Regions from separate parts of the Homo sapiens genome. Here region 1 is linked to region 2. A link means that fine-mapping ties the variant in region 2 to the expression of a gene that starts in the linked region. Tissue or cell type: tibial artery. Region 2 holds a variant in brackets; the other region holds the start of a gene. All regions are shown on one strand. Distances are from middle to middle.

Evidence for each region. PIP is the estimated chance that this variant, and not a neighbour inherited with it, causes the effect.
Region 1: it holds the start of LAX1, and the variant in region 2 is fine-mapped to the expression of LAX1 in tibial artery (GTEx, PIP 0.96).

Annotation. Positions count from the first base shown.
Region 1 is chr1:203,760,169-203,770,231 of GRCh38, forward strand. LAX1 (lymphocyte transmembrane adaptor 1) reads left to right here and starts at 5,015. Exons shown (of 5, transcript NM_017773.4): 1 at 5,015-5,486. The coding sequence starts at 5,398. RefSeq lists an enhancer at 4,898-5,257.
Region 2 is chr1:203,735,113-203,745,804 of GRCh38, forward strand. It overlaps ATP2B4 (ATPase plasma membrane Ca2+ transporting 4), which reads left to right. Exons shown (of 21, transcript NM_001684.5): 21 at 4,434-8,969. The coding sequence ends at 4,742. It overlaps LOC102723543 (a long non-coding RNA gene), which reads right to left and starts at 9,447. Exons shown (of 2, transcript XR_426890.4): 1 at 9,093-9,447; 2 at 2,082-2,935. The variant C/T (reference allele first, on the strand shown) is at 4,532.

The DNA.
Region 1 (10,063 bases), 25 kb after region 2:
AAGGCTAAAGGGGGCCATTAAGAATAAAGAAATGAGTTAGTGTCATAATAGCATAATAGCAGCCCCATTTAATGAGCTCTTAAATACGCCTAGTCCTAAACCAAGCATTTTTCATTGTTGGCCCAATTAATTCTCACAACATTACATAAGTAGTAGTATTATTGTCATTTTACAGCCAAGGAAACACCCAAAAAGATTAGATGAACTGCTAAGGTCAGCCAGGTAGTAATTTAGAACTTGAACTCAGGTTGATGTTTTGAACATGTGCTTTCTGCCTTCACAAAGAGAACTTCTGGAAAGTTTCTGGTGTTAGCAACATCATGAAAATAACACATAGTTCCCCCATCCCCACCAAGGGACTTTGTGGACTTAGATACATAAATTATTTCTATTTAAAACCAATCTTAAGCCAAGTGCTGTGGCTCATACCTGTAATCCCAGCACTTTGGGAAGCCTAGGCAGCTGGACCACTTGAGCTCAGGAGTTGAAGACTAGCCTGGCCAACAAGGCAAAACCCCGTCTCTACAAAAAATACAAAAATCAGCCAGGCATGGTGGCATGTGCCTGTAATCCCAGCTACTTAGGAGACTGAAGAAGGAGAATCACTTGAATCCAGAAAGTGGAGTTTGCAGTGAGCCTAGATCATGCCACTGCATTCCAGCCTGGGCGACACAATGAGACTCTGCCTCAAATAAATAAATAAATAAAACCAGTTTAGGGCCAGGGGCGGTGGCTCACACCTGTAATCCCAGCACTTTGGGAGGCTGAGGCAGGCGGATCACCTGAGGTTGGGAGTTTGAGACCAGCCTGGCAAACATGGTGAAACTCCATCTCTACTAAACATACAAAATTAGCGGGTGTGGTGGCGCATGACTGTAATCCCAGCTACTCGGGAGGCTGAGGCAGGAGAATCACTTGAATCTGGGAGGCGGAGGTTGCAGTGAGTCAAGATCGTGCCATTGCATTCCAGCCTGAGTGACAGAGCAAGACTCCGTCTCAAAAAAAAAAAAAACAAAAAAACACAAAAATAACAGTCTAGGCCAGGTGTGGTGGCTCATGCCTGTAATCCCAGCAAGTTGGGAGGCTGAGGCAGGCAGATCACAAGGTCAGGGGTTCGAGACCAGCCTGGCCAACATGGCAAAACCCCATCTCTACTAAAAACACATAAATTAGCTGGGCGTGGTGGCGAGCGCTTGTAATCCTAGCTACTCAGGAGGCTGAGGCAGGATAATCACTTGAACCCGGGAGGCAGAGGTTGCAGTGAGCCGAGATCATGCCATTGCACTCAAGCCTGAGCGACGAGCAAGACTCCATCTCAAAAAATAAATAAATAGGCTGGACCTGGTAGCTCACACCTGTAATCCCAACACTTTGGGAGGCCAAAGCAGGTGGATCACAAGGTCAGGAGTTGGAGACCAGCCTGGCCAATATGGTAAAACCCCGTCTTTTCTAAAAAAAAAAAAAAATACAAAAATTAGCCGAGCATGGTGGCGCACACCTGTAGTCCCAGCTACTCGGGAGGCTGAGGCAGAAGAATCGCTTGAACCCAGGAGGCAGAGGTTACAGTGAGCTGAGATCATGCCACTGCACTCCAGCCTGGGCGAAAGAGCGAGACACCTTCTCAAAAATAAATAAATAAATAAATGTTTGTTTGTTTGTTTGTTTGTTTTTGAGGGGAGTTTTGCTCGTTGCTCAGGCTAGAGTGCAATGGTGCGACCTCGGCTCACTGCAACCTCTGCCTCCCGGGTTCAAGCAATTCTGCTTCAGCCTCCTGAATAGCTGGGATTACAGTCAGGCACAACCACGCCTGGCTAATTTTTTGTATTTTTAGTAGAGATGGAGTTTCTCCATGTTAGTCAGGCTGGTCTCAAACTTCTGACCTCAAGTGATTCAGCCACCTCGGCCTTCCAACTTGCCGGGATTACAGGCGTGAGCCACTGCACCTGGCCAAAAAACAGTCTTAATACTTTAGAATCCTGTCAGAGGCGTATGAACCAGAGCAACTCCATCTCGAATAGGGGCTGGGTAAAATGAGGCTGAGACCTATTGGGCTGCATTCCCAGACAGTTAAGGCATTCTAAGTCACAGAATGAGATAGGAGGTTGGCACAAGATATAGGACATAAAGACCTTGCTGATAAAACAGGCTGTAGTAAAGAAGCCGGCTAACACCCACCAAAACCAACATGGCCATGAGAATGTCCTCTGGTCATCCTCACTGCCACACTCCCATCAGCACCATGACCGTTTACAAATGCCATGGAACAACAGGAAGTTAGTCTATATGGTCTAAAAAGGGGAGGCATGAATAATCCAGCCCGTGTTTAGCATATCATCAAGAAATAACCATAAAAATGGGCAACCAGTAGCCCTTGAGGCTGCTCTGTCCGTGAAGCAGCCATTCTTTTATTCCTTTACTTTCCTAATAAAGTTGCTTTCACTTTACTCTATGGACTCGCCCTGAATACTTCCTTGGGCAAGATCCAAGAACCCTCTCTTGGGGTCTGCATCAGGACCCCTTCCCTGTAACACCTTTCTGGCAACCACTGAAGGGACTATAGTGCAGAAACCCCCAACCCAAAGGCTAACTCTGGGTAAGTGTTGGGGTCTGGTAACAATCATATGTAACATCCGACCCCAAAAAATCATGAAAAGTGGTTAAAACACTAGAGCAGGCTGGGTGCAGTGGCTCACACCTATAATCGCAGAATTTTGGGAGGCCAGGGTGGGCAGATCACTTGAGCCCAGGAGTTTGGACCAGCCTGGCTAACATGCTGAAACCTCATTTCTACTAAAAATACAAAAATTAGCCATGTGTGGTGGCGTGTACCTGTAGTCCCAGCTACTTGGGAGACTGAGGCAGGAGAATGGCTTGAGCCTGGGAGGCATAGGTTGTAGTGAGCAAGAGCATGCCACTGCACTTCAGCCTGGGCAACAGGAGTGAAACCCTGTCTCAGAAAAAAACAACATCAACAACACGAGAGCAATCGGATTTAAAACATACACTCCTTGGCCAGGTGCGGTGGCTCATGCTGTAATCCCAGCACTTTGGGAGGCCAAGGCGGGCGGATCACCTGAGGTCAGTAGTTGGAGACCAGCCTGACCAACATGGAGAAACCCCGTCTCTACTAAAAATACAAAATTAGCTGGGTGTGGCGGTGCATGCCTGTAATGCCAGCTACTCGGGAGGCTGAGACAGGAGAATTGCTTGAACCCGGGAGGCGGAGGTTTCGGTGAGCCAAGATCATGCCATTGCACTCCAGCCTGGGCAACAAGAGCAAAACTCTATCTCAAAAAAACAACAACAACAACAAAATACACCCCATTTCCCAGGAACGAGTGTTTTTTGTTGTTGCTGTTGTTTTTTCCCCGCTATTATGATGAATCATTTCAGCTACCTACTTTTTGTTTTAGTTTGTCAGTTTGATTGGATTTTGCCCCATGGGGAAGGAAAGGAGAGCAGGATGAGGGGCACAGCCAAGGCCTGGAATCCTGGCACTCACCTGCAGTCTGAGGCAGGTAACTTGGGCAGCTGCCTCTGAGGTGGTGATTTCCCTGAGATGTGGGGGCAGGAGAGAATTGGACAACCAGAGGGAAGATTGGTCTAACTGCAGCAGATTGGGTAGATAAGATAAGTGAGGCCCTGAAATGATCACATGCAATGGAAAAGTTCTTTAAAAAAAAAAAAAATTTTTTTTTTTTAATTAGCAGTCATGGTTCTGAGGTTTGGTTCCATGTGCCCTTTCCGTGTACTGCCTTCCGAGGTCCTGATTCTCACAGTCCCTTATTGGTTCCAATGGCCCAGGACCCCAGTCCTTGCCACCAGCATGATGGATCTTGTGAGTAGTCCTAGTTCCTACTCAGACCTGATCCAAAGGAGAAGTGGGCAGAGACCCAGGTTCCAGCTCCAGCACCAGCTGCCTCTGAGCCATTTCTGCTTCCTACCAGGTGAAGCTCCTGGGAGGGAAGGGGCCCAGGACCTGGAATGATAAAGCTCCCTGGAAAGCCAGCCATGGCCAGTCTGCAGCCCCTGGGGACTCTGTGAGAGTCTGGATGCAGACAGGCCAGGGGCTGCCACCTCAGGAAAGCTGAGGACCTCAATGTCCACTGGGAAGAGATGGGAGGGAGGCATGGTTCTAGGAGGGTACTGCTGGTCTGCCCTTCCATTCATCTGGGAATCCATTTCCTTGTGGAAAGTGCAATCAGAGAGGTTCTTCACATCCTTACAACAGTCTTAGTGGCCCCTTCTCTTTGGACTCTCCCAAGATGCAAAGAGTGTTTCCGGAGATTAGTAGGCTCAAGAAGGGAGGGGAGTTAGCAATAAATTTTGAACAATCTTCAAACACTTTGGGTAGCTCTTAAGGATGAACTTGTTCAGCTTCTGAGACAGGTGTGTGACAAGTAAGACTGTGACTGATCTTCAGAAGAGCCCTGAGAACAGGAGATCACCAGCAGCCAGGAGCTGTGGAAGGTTGCCTTGGGGGAGCAGGGGTCCTGCTAACCCAGCATAACTTCTATTCTTAAGGTAGTACCCAGAGCAGAGGTTCCCAAAACATGAAACACAGATGAGCTCCATCAAAATCACCTGAAAGCTCCATCAAATTCACCTGGAAAGCATCGATAGCCAAAGCCTGCCCCCTCTGCAGCCTCCACCCACTGAATCAGAAGAGGGTCCCGGAGATCTGCATTTCACTCTAAAAGGCAACCTCCAGTGCTCCTTAGACTTGCTTAGAAAATACTGTAAATCTGAAGACTTATACAACTCTAAGTGTCTCAGAAACTCAGGGTGAAGAATCACAAGTTCTCTACTACCCTGCCCCATTTTTAATCACACTCATCACAGACCACAGAGCACCTGGCAAACCCAGGAACGGTGGGTTGAAGATATGTTTTCTTCTAGCAGATTAAGAGCTGAGCAGAGTTTCCTGTGCCCTGTGCTTCATTAGCACATTGGTGGTGTCGTTTCCGGTGACTGACTCTCTGTTTCCATTCTGGCAAAGTGGTTTGCTCTTTTCACTCTGCTTTGGGTGTTGAAGGAAGACGAGCTTCTCACGGAGCCTCTCTTGAGCCTCTTGGCAGTTTCCCCCTCTGTGCCCCTCACGTTTCCACCAGAAACGTGAAGGCAGAGGCCACAGATTCTCCCTGAGCCACCTCACTTGGAAGCACCATGTCCGGATGAGATCGCACTTCCTGCAGTGGGCATTAGCCACGTCCAGGTAGAACCAAACCTGTTGCTTTTGTATGTTGGGTCAACTTGGCCTGACGTTTCAGAGGTAGACACGAGATAGGGAGTTTGTTGCGGGGGTGGGGAGAAGTGGTAGACATGCTGGCTAACTGATTATGATTAAGAGAAACTTAGAAGCTGAAGCCAGAGAGCATCTCAAAGGTTCCTGATACAATGGATGGTGTCACTCCAACCCTTTCGACAATCAGAGGGAGGACCTTGGAGTCCAGCACTCTGCATGTGACTCCCCGCAGCCTGGACAGGTGAGTGACTCAGGGTGGTGAGCTCCACCCTGCCCTGATTTAGGCAGAAGGTCCTAGTCCACCCTTAGGAGCTTCTTACACAGCAGTGCTGCCACCTCTCAACACCCAGGCTCGGTCTACTAAACCACCAAACTCTAGGCTTGGAGGCATTTGCTCAGGGGTGCTAGGGGGAAAGGAAGGTATTGAGGAAAGAAAGAAAATATTGTGGTAGAGGAAAAACTGTGATAACACTGGCCCTTAAAGCTAGTTGCTTAGACTGGTTGGATTTCTCACCTCTCGGAGGCCCTGAACCCTATCATCAGTCTTTCCTAGGTGTCACCATGACAGAAACAAAAGGCTGAGTTTTCCAAGGATGTGTTTTGAGATCCAAAAACTTGTCATGAATAAAAAATGTAGTGATAGATGTAATAAAGATACGTCCTTAGGACGTAAAATCTTACAGAACTAATCATGGGTATGAATTACTGCTACTACTTTCAATCTCATACAAACAAAATTAAAAATCCATCCACAGTTGAAACTTTAAAAACATTGGCAGCTGACTGGGCGCGGTGGCTCACACCTGTAACCCCAGCACTTTGGGAGGCCGAGTGGGGCGGATCACCCCCACTCTTGAACCAGCCTGGCCAAGACCAGCCTGGCCAACATGGTGAAACCCCGTTTCTACTAAAAATACAAAAATTAGCCGGGAGTGGTAGCATGCTCCTGTAGTCCCAGCTACTCAGGAGGCTGAGGCAGGAGAATCACTTGAACCCGGGAAACAGAGGTTGCAGTGTCATGTCATTGTACTCCAGCCTGGGCAACAAAAGCGAAACTCTGTCTCAAAAAATAAAATAAAATTGCAGTCGTTTGGGGAAATAAATGTTATTATCATGGCAAACACATGTCACTTGCTGGTAGATATGAGCATCAATGAGCAATGAATCAGAAGCCTGAAGCATCTCTCCAAAACTATTTCTTCATTTATTTTTATTTATTTCTAATTGGCAAATCAAAATTATATATATTTATCATGATAGCCTGTTGTTTTGAAATATGTATACATTGTACAATAGCTACATTAAACTAATTAAGATACACATTACTTCACAATTTTCTTTTGTGGTGAGAATACTTAAAATTTCTCAGCAATTTTCAAGAATATGACACATTTTTATTAACTATAGTCATCAACACTTTTTTTGTTTTGTTTTGTTTGTTTTTTTTATTTTTATTTTTTTAGACAGAGTCTCGCTCTGTCGCCCAGGCTGGAGTGCAGTGGCGTGATCTCGGCTCACTGCAGCCTCCACCTCCCAGGTTCAAGCTATTCTCCTGCTTCAGCCTCCTGAGTAGCTGGGATTGCAGGCATGTGCCACCACCCGCGGCTAACTTTTTTTTGTATTTTTAGTAGAGATGGGGTTTCTTCATGTTGGTCAGGCTGGTCTCGAACTCCCTACCTTAGGTGATCCGCCCACCTCTGTCTCCCAAAGTGCTGGGATTACAGGCATGAGCCACCGGGTCTGGACCATCAACACATTTTTATTAACTATAGGCATCATGTTATACAACAGATCCCTTGAATTTTTCTTTCTCTCTAACTGATATTTTGTACCCTTTGACCAACATCTCTGCAACCCCTCCCTGGTAACCACCATTCTACTCTCCACTTCTTTTTTTTTTTTTTTTTTTTTGAGACAAAGTTTCACTCTTGTTGCCCAGGCTGGAGTGCAAGGTTGCAATCTAGGGTCACTGCAACCTCCACCTCCCAGGTTCAAGCGATTCTCCTGCCTCAGCCTCCCCAGTAAATGGGATTACAGGCATGAGCCACCATGCCTGGCTAATTTTGTATTTTTAGTAGAGTTGGGGGTTTCTCCATGTTGGTCAGGCTGGTCTCGAACTCCTTACCTCAGGTGATCCGCCCACCTCCGCCTCCCAAAGTGCTGGGATTACAGACATGAGCCACCATGCCCCGCCTTGGTAGTTCTATTTTTAATTTTTGAAGAACCTCCATAGTGTTTTCCATAATGGCTGTACTACACTTAAAACTATTTCTATATTAATTCATTTGTTTATTAATTCATTCATTTAACAAATATTTATCAGGGCCCTACTAAGTACCAAGCACTGTTTAAGGCACTAGGTGAACAGGATAAACAAGTCCATAACCTCCTGAAGATTATAGACAAGTGGGAGAGTCAAATAATGAACAGAGCTGAGCGTGGTGGCTCATGCCTATAATCCAAGCCTTTGGTAGACCAAGGCAGGAGGATCAATTGAGCCCAGGAGTTCAAAACCAGCCTGAGCAACACATGGAGACCCTGTCTCAAAATTTTTTTTTTTTAAATAAAAAAATGATAAACAGATAAGCATATGAATGTATAATATCAATCAATCGGGCTGGGTGAGGTGGCTCACGCCTGTAATCCCAGCACTTTGGGAGGCCAAGGTGGGCAGATCACCCAAAGTCAGGAGTTCGAGACCAGCCTGACGAATATGATGAAACCCCATCTCTACTAAAAATACAAAAATTAGCCAGGCGTGGTGGTGCGTACCTGTAGTCCCAGCTACTCGGGAGGCTGAGGCAGAAGAATCACTTGGACCCAGGAGGGGGAGGTTGTGGTGAGCCAAGATCATGCCATTGCGCTCCAGCCTGGGAAACAAAAGCGAAACTCCATCTCAAAAAAAAAGATATATCAATCAGTCATCAGTGCTATGAAGAAAAAGTGGAGCACAGCAAGGGGACTGCAAGTAATAGGGTGTGGCCATGGAAGACGTGTCTGAGGAGATGACATTTGACGTTTCAGAAGAGACCTGAATGAGAGGGACTCAGCCATGCAGACAGCTGGGAGAGGAGGATTCCTGGGAGAGGGAGTGGCAGGTCTGACACAGAACTGTGCTCTGCATGGGCAAGGGATCCTGGCAGTCAAAGTCAGAGGGAAAGTGGTAGGAAATAAGGTCAGAGGTAAGCAGAGGCCAGATCATATCGTGCCGTCAAGTCCTCTCTGAGGAAGGACTATAGACTTTATTCTAAGTCACTCGAAGCCGGGGAGAGTGATGAGTAGAGGAGGGATGTGATCTGATTTACCATTTAGAATTATCACACTGGTTTTTGTGTGAAGACAACGAATGTTGAGGCCAAGAGTTAAAGCAAGGAGACCATCCAGGAAAGTTATTGCAAAGGTTCCTGTGAAATGCACAGCAGCTTAGACCCGAGTGGTGGCAACAGAGGAGCAAGAGGTGGTTGGGTTTGGGATAAATGCCCAGGGTAATGCAGCCAGAATCTGCTGGTTGACTGGAAGTGGGGCATGAAAGAAAAAGAGCTCCAAGAATGGCTCCAAGATTTTTGACTAAGCCATTAGATTATGGGAAACACCTGGGGAGTAGCAGGTTTATGTGGGGAGAACAGGAGCTCTGTTTTGGTTTGAGCTGTCTGTTAGGCAACTAGTTAGAAATGCTCACTAGAAACTTGGATGGGCTGGGCGCGGTGGCTCACACCTGTAATCCCAGCACTTTGGGAGACTGAGGCAGGCGGATCATTTGATGCCAGGAGTTCAAGACCAGCCTGGCCAACATGGTGAAATCCCATCTCTAATAAAAATACAAAAAAAATTAGCCGGGCGTGGTGGCGTGTGTCTATAGTCCCGGCTACTCAGGAGACTGAGGCAGGAGAATCGCTTGAACCTGGGAGGCAGAGGTTGCAGTGAGCCAAGATCATGCCACTGCACTCCAGCCTGAGCGACACAGCGAGACTCTGTCTCAAAAAAAAAGAAAGAAAGAAAGAAAGAAAGAAAGAAAGAAAGAAAGAAAGAAGGAAAGAAAGAAAAGAAAAGAAAGAAAGTTGTATAAATAAGCCTAAAACTCAAGGGGACAAAAACCTTCCCTGTTAAATGCCCTGGTTTCTAATAATTGGGGGTAGCACGTCAGTTCCTGATTCCCGCTGTAACTTCAGTTGGCAGCTTCCTGTTGCATTAGGCATAGCCATCTGGGGTTGTAATCATCTGGATGCATTTCAACACCCAAGCAAAACCGAGCAGTGACGCCAGCCCTGCCAGGGAATTGCAAGGTAGCACAGAACATGAATTGGTTAAACTTCACACAACAGCAGTGTGTTGCTTGGAGACCAGCTCCACAAATTGGTGCGGGGGGGGGGGCGGCGGGGGGTGGGGGGTGTTATTCAAGTTCATGCAAGCTGGACTCTGTCACAGAGCCACTCCTTAACTGTACGTTGGCTAATCCTCTCCTCCAAGCAAGCCAGGAAGCCCACGAGTAGGGAACAAGAAGGGGCAAGGCCAAATGACTTTGACTTTGCAGGTTTGGAGGACAGTGTGGCAGAGTGGAAAGAGCATGGTCTTTGGACGCAAACAGACCTAGATTCATATTCCTTCTCTGCTCCTTCCTACCTAGGTGATCTCTGACATGTTACTTTACCTTTCTGAGTCTAAAGCTCAGGTTACTTGGCCACAAAGTGTGATAGGATTGTTAAAGATTAAATAAGTTTCACAGGCCGGGCACGGTGGCTCACACCTGTAATTCCAGCACTTTGGGAGGCCAAGGCGGGCAGATGACAAGGTCAAGAGATTGAGACCATCCTGGCCAAT
Region 2 (10,692 bases):
TTTAGGAGTTTCTGAAGAGGAGTGCCTTTTATTTTGCTTCTCCTTTTCTCTAGTTTGATTGTTTCACCAATAGCCAGCACTTATTTTGCACATAAAGTTTCAGGAAGCCCTTTCTCAGCCGGACTTGCAATTGGAGTATTATCAACTCACAACCTAAGATCTGGTGTTCCCATTGGTAGATTCTTGGATTCTTGCTAATGCTTATGTCTTCCTATTCCTGGTCATTTTCCCTTCCCCAAATGGGACTCAGAGAGGAGAGAGAAGGTAGCCAGCTCTTTGCTGATAATGTGGGAAGGAGTTTATCTGTATTAAATATAATGTGGGTTTCAAATAGCTGAGTGTTCAGTCTGTTCCTTCCTCCCCCATTCCCAACCTCACCACCCCCCACCCCGACCTCTGCAAAGGGGCTCAAGAAAGAACAGTTGCCTTGTCTGTGGTTCACATGATCACGGACTGTGTGGGTTGACCAGACTTAGATTTGTTTTGTCTCTTTAGCCAAAGTGTTCTGATGTGAGGAATGGGGGTGGAACTTGATAGAGATACATACAATTTCTTTAGGTCAAAAAAACAGGCAAGAAAGAACTCACTAAGTCTTGCCCTGCAAGTATCCAGGAACCTCTCCCACCAGTTCTTTCATATTCCTCTCTTAATTCCTTTTTTCCTTCTAGTTCTGCCATCCCCTTCTAACTAGCTTCTGTTCTGTTTTAATCATCCCTTTCTGATAGGAAGGGTTAGTGTCAGATATCCTGATGGTTTGATGGTGGAAGGAGACTAAGTAGAAGACTAAGCAGAAGACTGGGATCTTGTAGAGCAGCTGGTAGAGGGTGTGCTCCAAATCCTCAAAGACTAGATCAGAGGAGAGACAGGCCACACCTGCTCTTTCTCCAGCTGTGCCTTTTTAGTTGGAGCTCCTAGAAGTTATAGCCATACATTTTAAAACCCTCTTTCCCATTCCAGATCTCCAAATGAATTCAACTGTTTGTCCAACCTTCATTAGATAGATCTCTAAGATTTCCCTGCATAGGGAGGCCCTAATCCTTTTCTTCTGGTTTCTGAAAAGAGCAGAAAACTGCCTGGCGCGGTGGCTCACGCCTGTAATCCCAGCACTTTGGGAGGCCGAGGCAGGTGGATTACTTGAGGTCAGGAGTTCGAGACCAGCCTGGCCAACATGGTGAAACCTCATTTCTACTAAAAATACAAAAAAAAATAGCTGAGTGCGGTGGCGCACGTCTGTAATCCCAGCTACTCTAGAGGCTGAGGCAGGAGAATCGCTTGAACTCGGGAGGCGGAGGTTGCAGTGAGCTGAGATCACGCCATTGCACTCCAGCTTGGGCAACAAGAGTGAAACTCCATCCCCCCCAAAAAAAAAAAAGCAGAAAACTACAGAATGAGAAAATGGAGTCTTCACCTGCCCACTCATTGAGCTGCAGAGAGTAGCCCTCAGCACTCATACCCAGTCTCCTGAGTCATGAAAAGAGTTGCCCTTCAACCAGCCACTTCCACCTGTAGGCCAGGGCCCCAAAAGAGACATTTCCCCAAGGTTTTGAGAAATGATGACCAGGAAGGGAAGGGTTGACTGGCTGTGTGGAGAGTGCTCAAAGCTTTCCCTGCACCTTCTTCACTAGCCCTGTCTTGTCCCCATACACTGCTCATGCACCAGGCATCATGCTCCAGGAAGGGGAGATGCCAGCCCTGGGTGGATTGGTGGTGATATAGTGCATGATTGTTCATCAGCATGTGTTCTCTGAGGCCAGTGCTGGAGTTGGGGCATCCTGGCACAGCCCCATGCCCTCTCCTCCCTCACCCTTCTCTCCACCCACCAAGCCAGCTGGTGCTCCCTAGCTCTCTGACCCCTCTTCACGTGAGCTTCCTTACAGGTGGCTGGTTTCCCTTTAGATTCCAGAAGTCCTGCAGTCTAGCTGGATGACTGTTTCTTGCTCCCCAAAAGACATTTCCCATATTTTTTCCATCTACCCATCCCCAATTCACTTTTATCTTCCTCATTGTTTACCTGTAACAGTATTATTGGTCACCCCAACAGGTGAGAGGAAAAGCCAACAAACAGGGCTCCAGACCCTCACTCCAACCCCAGTTGTTACAAATTTATTTTCTATAGTGGACTTCACATGTAATTTTTTCCAACAAAGTATTCAATTGAATGGAAGCAGGAAATTGAAAATCACTGATATTGAAGATGATGTACTGGCGGATAAAGGCACCTGCCCTCCTGTAATATTCAGTAGAAATTTTGAGATCTTGAAAACATATGAAAAATGTGGGCTATGTTATCACTCCTGACAGTGATGGCTTTGATGGAGTGGGATGACTTTGGACCCATCTCTTGGCCAGTGTATCTGTGCCAGGGTCAAAGGAGAAGGCACTGGGTTTGGACTCACTCAATCCAAATTGCCTTGCTCTGAGATTTTATGTAGATCAGTGAAAACTTGAGACTTCCTGAAGACCAGATGGAGCCTCCATTCCATCTGATCTCACCTAGATCTGGAGCAAAGGCAACATGATAGGTAAAATTTGCACATCAGATGGTCAAATAGGAATCAGATAATAAAAATGTGGTCCTCGCTGTCTGTTCAGCATGGTGAGTGTGTGCCTGTGCTCCCTGATTCTTCTTGGCTGAGGTGTTGAGCTGATACTGTTGAGTGGCAAGGAGTCCTTTGCCTTCTGAGCTTTGAGCACCCTCAGTCTTGGGTGGGTCTGCAGGCTGTAGTAGAGTGGGACGAGATAAAGAAAGCCTTAGCCAGCAGAGACACATTCTCCTCCAGAGAAAACGGACCAACAGTATTGATAGTGAGCCTTCTTTGAGTGGTATTTATGAAGGTTCTGTATGGTGGTAGGAAGCACTGGAACAGGTGATCCAACCAGTTTATTTGGCTGACTCTCTGTATCCTCTGCTGTCTCCAAATTCTTGTGTCTTCTCCTGGAATATATTTTTGGTTAAACAGCAGAGGAATGAAAGAGGTACCCTACCCCCACCTTCATCACTCCTACCCCTCCAACCTCAACAGTTTCCCCCACATTACTCCCATTTCTTTTCTGAGTGAAGATTTTTTGGACAAGACTAGGATCAGCCACCTTCCAACAACTAGAACCGTCCTACAACCATTTACCTTTCCCCTGGCCCCTCTCTCCAACTTCTCGGAGCTCCAACCCTCTCCCCCTACCCCAATTCTACCATCCCTGATTCTAAGCCACGCCTCAGAGAGACCTGCAGTTCAGAAAAGCAGAGCTGCCAAAATTGCTGGTGCCTGTGGACAAGCAAAAGCTGTTCACAGGCATCAATTATTGTCAGTTTTTTCTTGATGACTCTGAACTGACCGAATCCCTTCCTTTTTGCGCAGTAAGACAGAGACTATGACACTGGGCAATGCATCTCCTTTTGCCCAGTAAAACCGCACGTGGTTTCCTTTCCTTCATCCTCTTCATCCACCCCATCAGAAAGGCCACTTGTTTGTAGCACTGCCTCCTGGATTAGGTTTCTCTCCCTGGTCCCTTTCATTCCCTTCTCCACATAAGACTATGCTCCTCTTCACAATTTGGAAACAGCTAGAGAAAGCAGCATGATTGGGCACAGTTGCTGTGTATCAGAGACATGAACGTGCATTTGAATTATGAGAGCCAGGTCTTTTCTCAATAGGCAGGAGGAAGGCATCTTTTGACACCTGTATTTTATCTGCTGCTTCTAGGGAAGGGGCTGAAGGAGTGAAGTTCTGTGTTATTTGCGGGGAGGGGACACAGTGGTGGTTGTGGGATATAAAAATATGCATGTTTCCTGGCTGAAAGGGCAAATTATTATTAGAGAGTTTTAAGTTCCTGCATGCTGCTGACACAAATGAAGATTGGTTTGTCTGCCTGGCTGCACAGTTTTCATGGTCACTCGTCACCCAACCTGTATTATGTGCAGATTGGTGTATGCTGGCTCTTTGAGGTCTTTAAACAGATAACTAAACCTCAATGCATAATTTTTCCATTCCACATTCACAAAATGTTTGGCCTCAGCACAGAAATCCACATATCTCAATCATCTTTTTAAGTTTGGCTATGAATTTGCATCTAGTTCCCATGTCCTTGCCCTCCATCTAAAAGAACTAATGAAACTTCTTGTTTTCTGTTTCATTTTAAAAGTAGATTGTTTGGGAATGCTAACGTTGCTTTGGGTTTTCTACTTTTTTTAATGCAGCTTTCAAAACGTCCTAGTTGCCGTCACTCACCCCAGCCCACCCCACTGCTTGAAAGTTGAGCCATGTGATGTTTCTAGTGCCCCATGATCTCTTCTGATGTGTGTTTGGTTTTGATGCTGAGCAGTCATGTTTTATAGTCTGGGTTTTGTTTCTCTCCTAAATCCACCATCTCCTTGTTCTGCCGGCCAATTCTCACCTCTCTATTTTCTCATCCTCCTTTTCCTTCCCCTGGTATAGATCAAAGTGGTCAAAGCGTTCCATAGTTCCCTCCACGAAAGCATTCAGAAACCCTACAACCAAAAGTCCATCCACAGCTTCATGACCCACCCTGAATT[C/T]GCCATAGAGGAGGAGTTGCCACGAACACCACTCCTGGATGAGGAAGAGGAGGAAAATCCTGACAAGGCTTCTAAGTTTGGGACTAGGGTGCTCCTGTTGGATGGTGAGGTCACTCCATATGCCAATACAAACAACAATGCGGTGGATTGCAACCAAGTGCAGCTCCCCCAGTCGGACAGCTCTCTACAGAGCCTAGAGACATCAGTTTGAATTTTCTTTCTCTGACTCTCATCCCTATTTTACCTATTTCCATTTTCGTCTATCCCATCTATGAGGTGATGATGGGACTTTTCATTGTCACGTCAGCTGCTGTGTTAACAGCAGTGTGTGTGAAGTGAACCTCTACCTGACCATGAAGAGGCAAGAGCACAGACTTACAAGGATTTCAACTTAAGCTTGACTTGGGGTTTGTAGCGGGACCCAGTCAAACCCCATTCAGGTCATGGTAGAATCTACTCCTTGGTAGTCACTTGTCATTTTTAAAGAAATGATGACAATCCTCTTGGCATCACCCCACCCCACATTCTCCCCGATGTTCCTCTCCTGAATTCTGGATTTTGTCCTACAAGTCTGTGCCATTTATAAGCTAAGTTGAGGGTTCAGAGGGAGACAAATATCCCCAAGTGAAATATGTTGCGGTAGAGATGGAATGTATAAAATCCGCCAGTAGTGTGATTGTTTTTCAATTTTTCCCACTTTGAAAACTTACACCTAAAGGCCTGTAGGCCTCTAACTCTTTCTGCCCTTTCATTCAAACCTCTCCAAAGTTCTTTGTCTTTTGTCTTCCCTTCCTTTCCTTTTTTTTTTTTTTTTTTATGATGATTAAGAAAATGGAAAGGATATGGATGAATTGTGTAAACTTAGATCCTTCTCCCTTTTGGCCCAAAAGAACCCTTGATTTAGTTCCAGAATCCAACCAGTTTCTTTGTTAAAAGGGTCCTTTTGAAGCAATTAAGTGCTGGTAAGAATATTTCTCTGTTGTTGCCAGGTTACCTTCTGCTTTTAAATTGCCATCTTGTAAAGTGTATGTGGTTCTTAAGTGCCAGGGAGATCAGCCTTGCCCATGAAGGTTGCATATGTGTGGTATACAGTTTTTACCTGAAAGCCTGAGCTTTCTCTTATTCCTAAAGTGGTGGCAAAAGAATGAACTGGGTATGACCCTGCCCCCTTACTGGGCTTGGATATTGAGGACCAGACGCTGCCAAATCTAGGACAAGACAGACCATCAAAGCAGACTTTTGTGGGCTCCTCTTTGGGGTGACCACTGCTTTCAAAGCCATCTGCCAAGGCTCTCCAGGGCAGGACCTGACTGGTGGGGAATGAGTGTTCAGAAGCCTTGGGAGAGGCCAAAGAGCCATTCTAGCATGATCTGAGAAAACCTTCCTGCAGAGGCCAGAAACCTTGAGCTTAGGTGCCTGGGGACCAGCTTCGACATTCTCTCCAGTTTCTGATTCTAATTTTTGCCACGTGTCACAACTTTTCCAGTCTCTGAGAAGGTCCCAGCCTTTCTCAAATATTCTGATTTTGAAAATATGTATCCAAAGTGGGAGGCCCCTGTGACATTTTGCCAACTTAAACGAGAAAAAGACCCCCCGCACCCGGCACACTCCCCCTTCCTCCAGCCCCGCTTCAGCCACATGCTCCAGCTGCTGCCCAGTAAAGCCCTGTGCCTTTTTTTCCCCTGAATACTGCCCAAAGCATCCCCTTCCCATCTGCCTCTCAGGAGTTGGGGACTTTGCTAGGAGATTTTTTAAGTGTTCCTTACTGGGACAACGTGGAGCCACGTTTGCAGGAGCTCCATTTGTATCCCTGCTGGTGTTGACTTCTGTGTAGGGGCCAGTTCATGTCCCTGACTCTCACCTCCCATTAGATAAATGAAGCCCACCCCCCTTTCTAGAGTGATGAGAGTCAAGAAGAGGGGATGTATGAACGGCCAAATTCCCATGTGAGAGGAAGATGACCTGATCCACCTAGCCTTTTCTTCTGGATCTGTCCTCCCTCACCCCTTTCACCTGAGCTGTCCACAGTAGGAAACATAAAGAAACAATGTCCCCTACATATCCCCATGACTACATAATCCATCATCGTAGGAAATAGGAAAGCAAATTTGATTTTGGTTTTGTAAAACGTACATGCTTCAATAATTCTTTTTTGTGTCTTAAATACTCATAGGGGAAAAAAACAGCTCACCCAAGGTGTTAGGTTTCACATATATATTCATCAACTATTTTAGAAGATTTAATTCTATCAAATCTTGTATTACCTCAGATCATTTTAAATAGCAAGCCAATAACGAGCTTTGAAGGCTATTTTACCATTCCTGTTCACAAAAGGTTCTCATGGTGCCTGACAGGTTACCCTTGAGGGCTTGTGTCTACTTTTTAAAAGTCAATGGTTTTTTTTCTTGTGTTCTAGTTTCCATAATAGGAGAGAAAATATAGAAATATATGCAAAAATTATAGTTTTCTTTAGATCAGAAACTGATATTTTTGGGTCAGCCATATGTATTTTGTTTAAAGGATTTAAAATAAAGTGCCGTCATGTAGCCCTGTGGAAGGGAGCACATAACCAGCTGTTTGGCATGACAGGTGACTTAGTATATTTGTAATTGGTTTTAAAACCAATACACCATACTTTCTTTCTGCAAACAGCCATCTTTATACTTAGGGAAGAAAAATTGTTGGGTTCTAGACTTTTTTAATATAAATTTTGTTGATATGGAATTAGGTAAGTTTAAGTGTCTATGTGCATATGTTTTTTATATAAGTTTTTTCTATTCAGTTTCACTGATCCAACTGGCAGTGGGTAAATATGGCATAAGTTAATAACACTTTTCCCCAAAATGGTGCTTTGGATTTGAAAAGGGTCTGATGGGGAGAAGGAGAACGTATCATCCTAGCTTCCTCTCTTAATAAACCTAGAAAAACGGGTAGTAAACTGTGGATAGTCAGGAAAACACCCAGCAAGGGACACAGCTGTCAGGAAATGAATCTTCCCCCCAACCCCCACCATGCAGATGGATAGACAGAATCTTTCCTGACTAGTCATTAGGATCAGGGGCCTCTGTTGGATTTGTGTTTCTTGAAGAATAGCTGGCAGAGTGGTATAAAAGACACGAATATCTCCTGGTCTATAAGGATACTCTGATTTGGGGTTTGCATTTTTCATGGTTTTTATTTCCTGTTCCCCCTGGAGTTTTCCATTAGTGAGTTTTTGTGCAAGGATCTTATTTGTGATGCCTTCCCTCCCCTAGAAAGATTTTGTGCAATATATTAAATGGGGACAGAATTCTAAATGGATAAAACAATGGCTGGTTCTAGCCCTGAGTGACAGTCTTAAGGCTAGATCCTTCCCATAGTATCATCTGTCCTCTGGAATGACTCTCCTGTCCCTAAAGGGGTTAAGAGAGAGATCACCTAGAAATCCCTCTGGACACTTGTGGGTTCTTTAGGGTTTGAGTTTCTTCTTCCCCTTGAGCTTCAGAGAGGAGAGTTGGCATGGTTAAATCTGAATGGTTACCTCACTGCTGAAAACCCAGAGGGGCGTGGCACACTCGCTTGTGTGGAAAAGCCTCTAAATGCATCCCTTCCTTTCTTTCCTGCTTCCTTTGCCTTACAATTGAAGCAGCCCGTGGTACCATCACAGTATGCAGAGACTTCCTCACCTTTCATATCTAGGGACCACCCCCGATGCATTGGTGAGGGTGGGCACTTATAAATGCCTGCTATTGTTAAGCCATTCCAGCCTCTTCCTCTGAATAGACCAGACGCCCTTTCACTTAGTTCAGTGCCAGTCCTTTTGCCTTCCCAACCCTGCTGTTAGGCCTGCTGTTCCCTTTGCTCTTGATTAGGAGAGATGGAAGGAGATGAGCTCCCATAACTGAATTGGCCTTTGGTTCATGTTTTCTCCCCATATGTATATATGCCATATGTGAATATGCCATATATATGTGCCAACAAATCTATCTACGTTGTTCTTTTCAAATTAGCACGCAGATAGGAATTTTGAGTTTCTTCTTCTTTTAGTAACTAGTATAACAAGCACTGGTATTTTTGTACAAAAAAGAAAAACAAAAGATTGACTATTGTGGTCTGCATGACATAAACAAACAAATGGTGATATCAAAGCAACGTATACCCCAGTCCAGTGTGTGTTGCCATAATTTGCAATTCAGCTTAACAGTGCACCCAATCTATATTTGCATTTTGATATTATTTAAGCTCTATGTACAAGGTTTTGCATGTATTTATATGGTTCTTAGGGAAAAAAAATGCTATAAACTGCAAATCTGAAATTCAAATGTGTTGTTCCACTGAGACCAGAAGAAGAAGAGGAGTTTTAAAAGGGATAATTTGTTGGAGCCAATAAAGCTTTTTGCTGATGAACAGAAACCAATACTGCTGTGCACTGAGAATAAAAACTCATGCCCACTTGTAACTGTGCTGTCCTCAATGCGTCTCCACTTTTGGGTAATGCCACTGATTGTCTGTTGAAGTTGAGAAGGGAAATGCCGCAACCACAAGGACAACCCCATTTAAACAGGCACAGAATTCAGCTTACCACCAGACTCTGACAACGCTTCCCTTCCCTCTGGGCCTTCGCATTGGCTTCATTCCCTTGCAGTGCAAGCTGTGCTCCACCCACCTTGGTTAGAATCCACAGTTCAGGAGCTGGAGCTTTTGGAAGAATAAGAAAGAGGCAGTCTTGGCAGTCCTTGCTTTTTTTCTTTCCTTTTTTTGTTTTTTGTTTTTTTTGGTTTTGGTTTTGGTTTGTTTTATATGAAATGTCTTTTAGGAGAAGTAGTTTCCCTTACATTAGCCGCCTTTCCCTTGGGTTCTCCACCCTCCCCCTCACTTCCCTATGGTTTAAAAAATGTCTTTCATTAATTGAGTCTTGCTAGAGACTCATATTAGGCCCCAGTTTCAGGTCAAAACAGCTTCCTGGCAGGTCATTTACATTCTGAGCTTTCATATCTGAGACAACTCCTTCCTGCAGCTCTCATCCAGGTGCACGACGAAGTTCCCCAACCCTCTTTTAAAATATCACAGGGAGGAGCCAGGCACAGTGGTTCACACCTGTTGTCCCAGCTACTGGGGAGGGGAAGGGGCTGAGGCGGGAGGATCGCTTGAGCCCAGGAGTTCAAGTCCAGCCTGGGCAACATGGCAAGACCCCATCTCTAAAATACACACACACACACACACACATCATAAGGAGGAAAGGACCTTGTCCACTCCCCAAATTCCTTTAGGAAAAGCATGACATTGAAGAACGCCCCAAACTCTCCTGGCTATTTTAATAGTCTGGCTCTGAAAGAGGATCTAGCCCTGGTTGAAAAAGACTTATGGCCGGGTGCAGTGGCTCACGCCTGTAATCCCAACAGTTTGGGAGGCCAAGATGGGTGGATCACCTGGGGTCGGGAATTCGAGACCAGCCTGACCAACATGGAGAAACCCCATCTCTTCTAAAAATACAAAAATTAGCCAGGCATGGTGGTACATGCCTGTAATCCCAGCTACTCGGAGGCTGAGGCAGGAGAATCACTTGAACCTGGGAGGCAGAGGTTGCGGTGAGCCAAGATCACGCCATTGCACTTCAGCCTGGGCAACAAGAGTGAAACTCCATTTCAAAAAAAAAAAAAGAAGGTCCGAGCGCAGTGGCTCATACCTATAATCCCAGCACTTCGGGAGGCCAAGGCAGGCGGATCACCTGAGGTCAGGGGTTCGAGACGAGCCTGACCAACATGGAGAAACCCTGTCTCTACAAAAAATAAATTCAGCCAAGCGCAGTGGCTCATGCCTGTAACCCCAGCACTTTGGGGGGCCAAGGTGGGCGGATCATGAGGTCAGGAAATTGAGACCATCCTGACTAACACAGTGAAACCCCATCTCTACTAAAAAATACAAAAAACTAGCCGGGCGTGGTGGCAGGTGCCTGTAGTCCCAGCTACTCGGGAGGCTGAGGCAAGAGAATGGCGTGAACCTGGGAGGCGGAGCTTGCTGTGAGCCGAGATCATGCCACTGCACTCCAGCCTGGACAACAGAGCAAGACTCCGTCTCAAAAAAAACAAAACAAACAAACAAAAATACAAAAATCAGCCGGGCGTGGTGGTGCATGCCTGTTATCCCAACTATTCAGGAGGCTGAGGCAGGAGAATCACTTG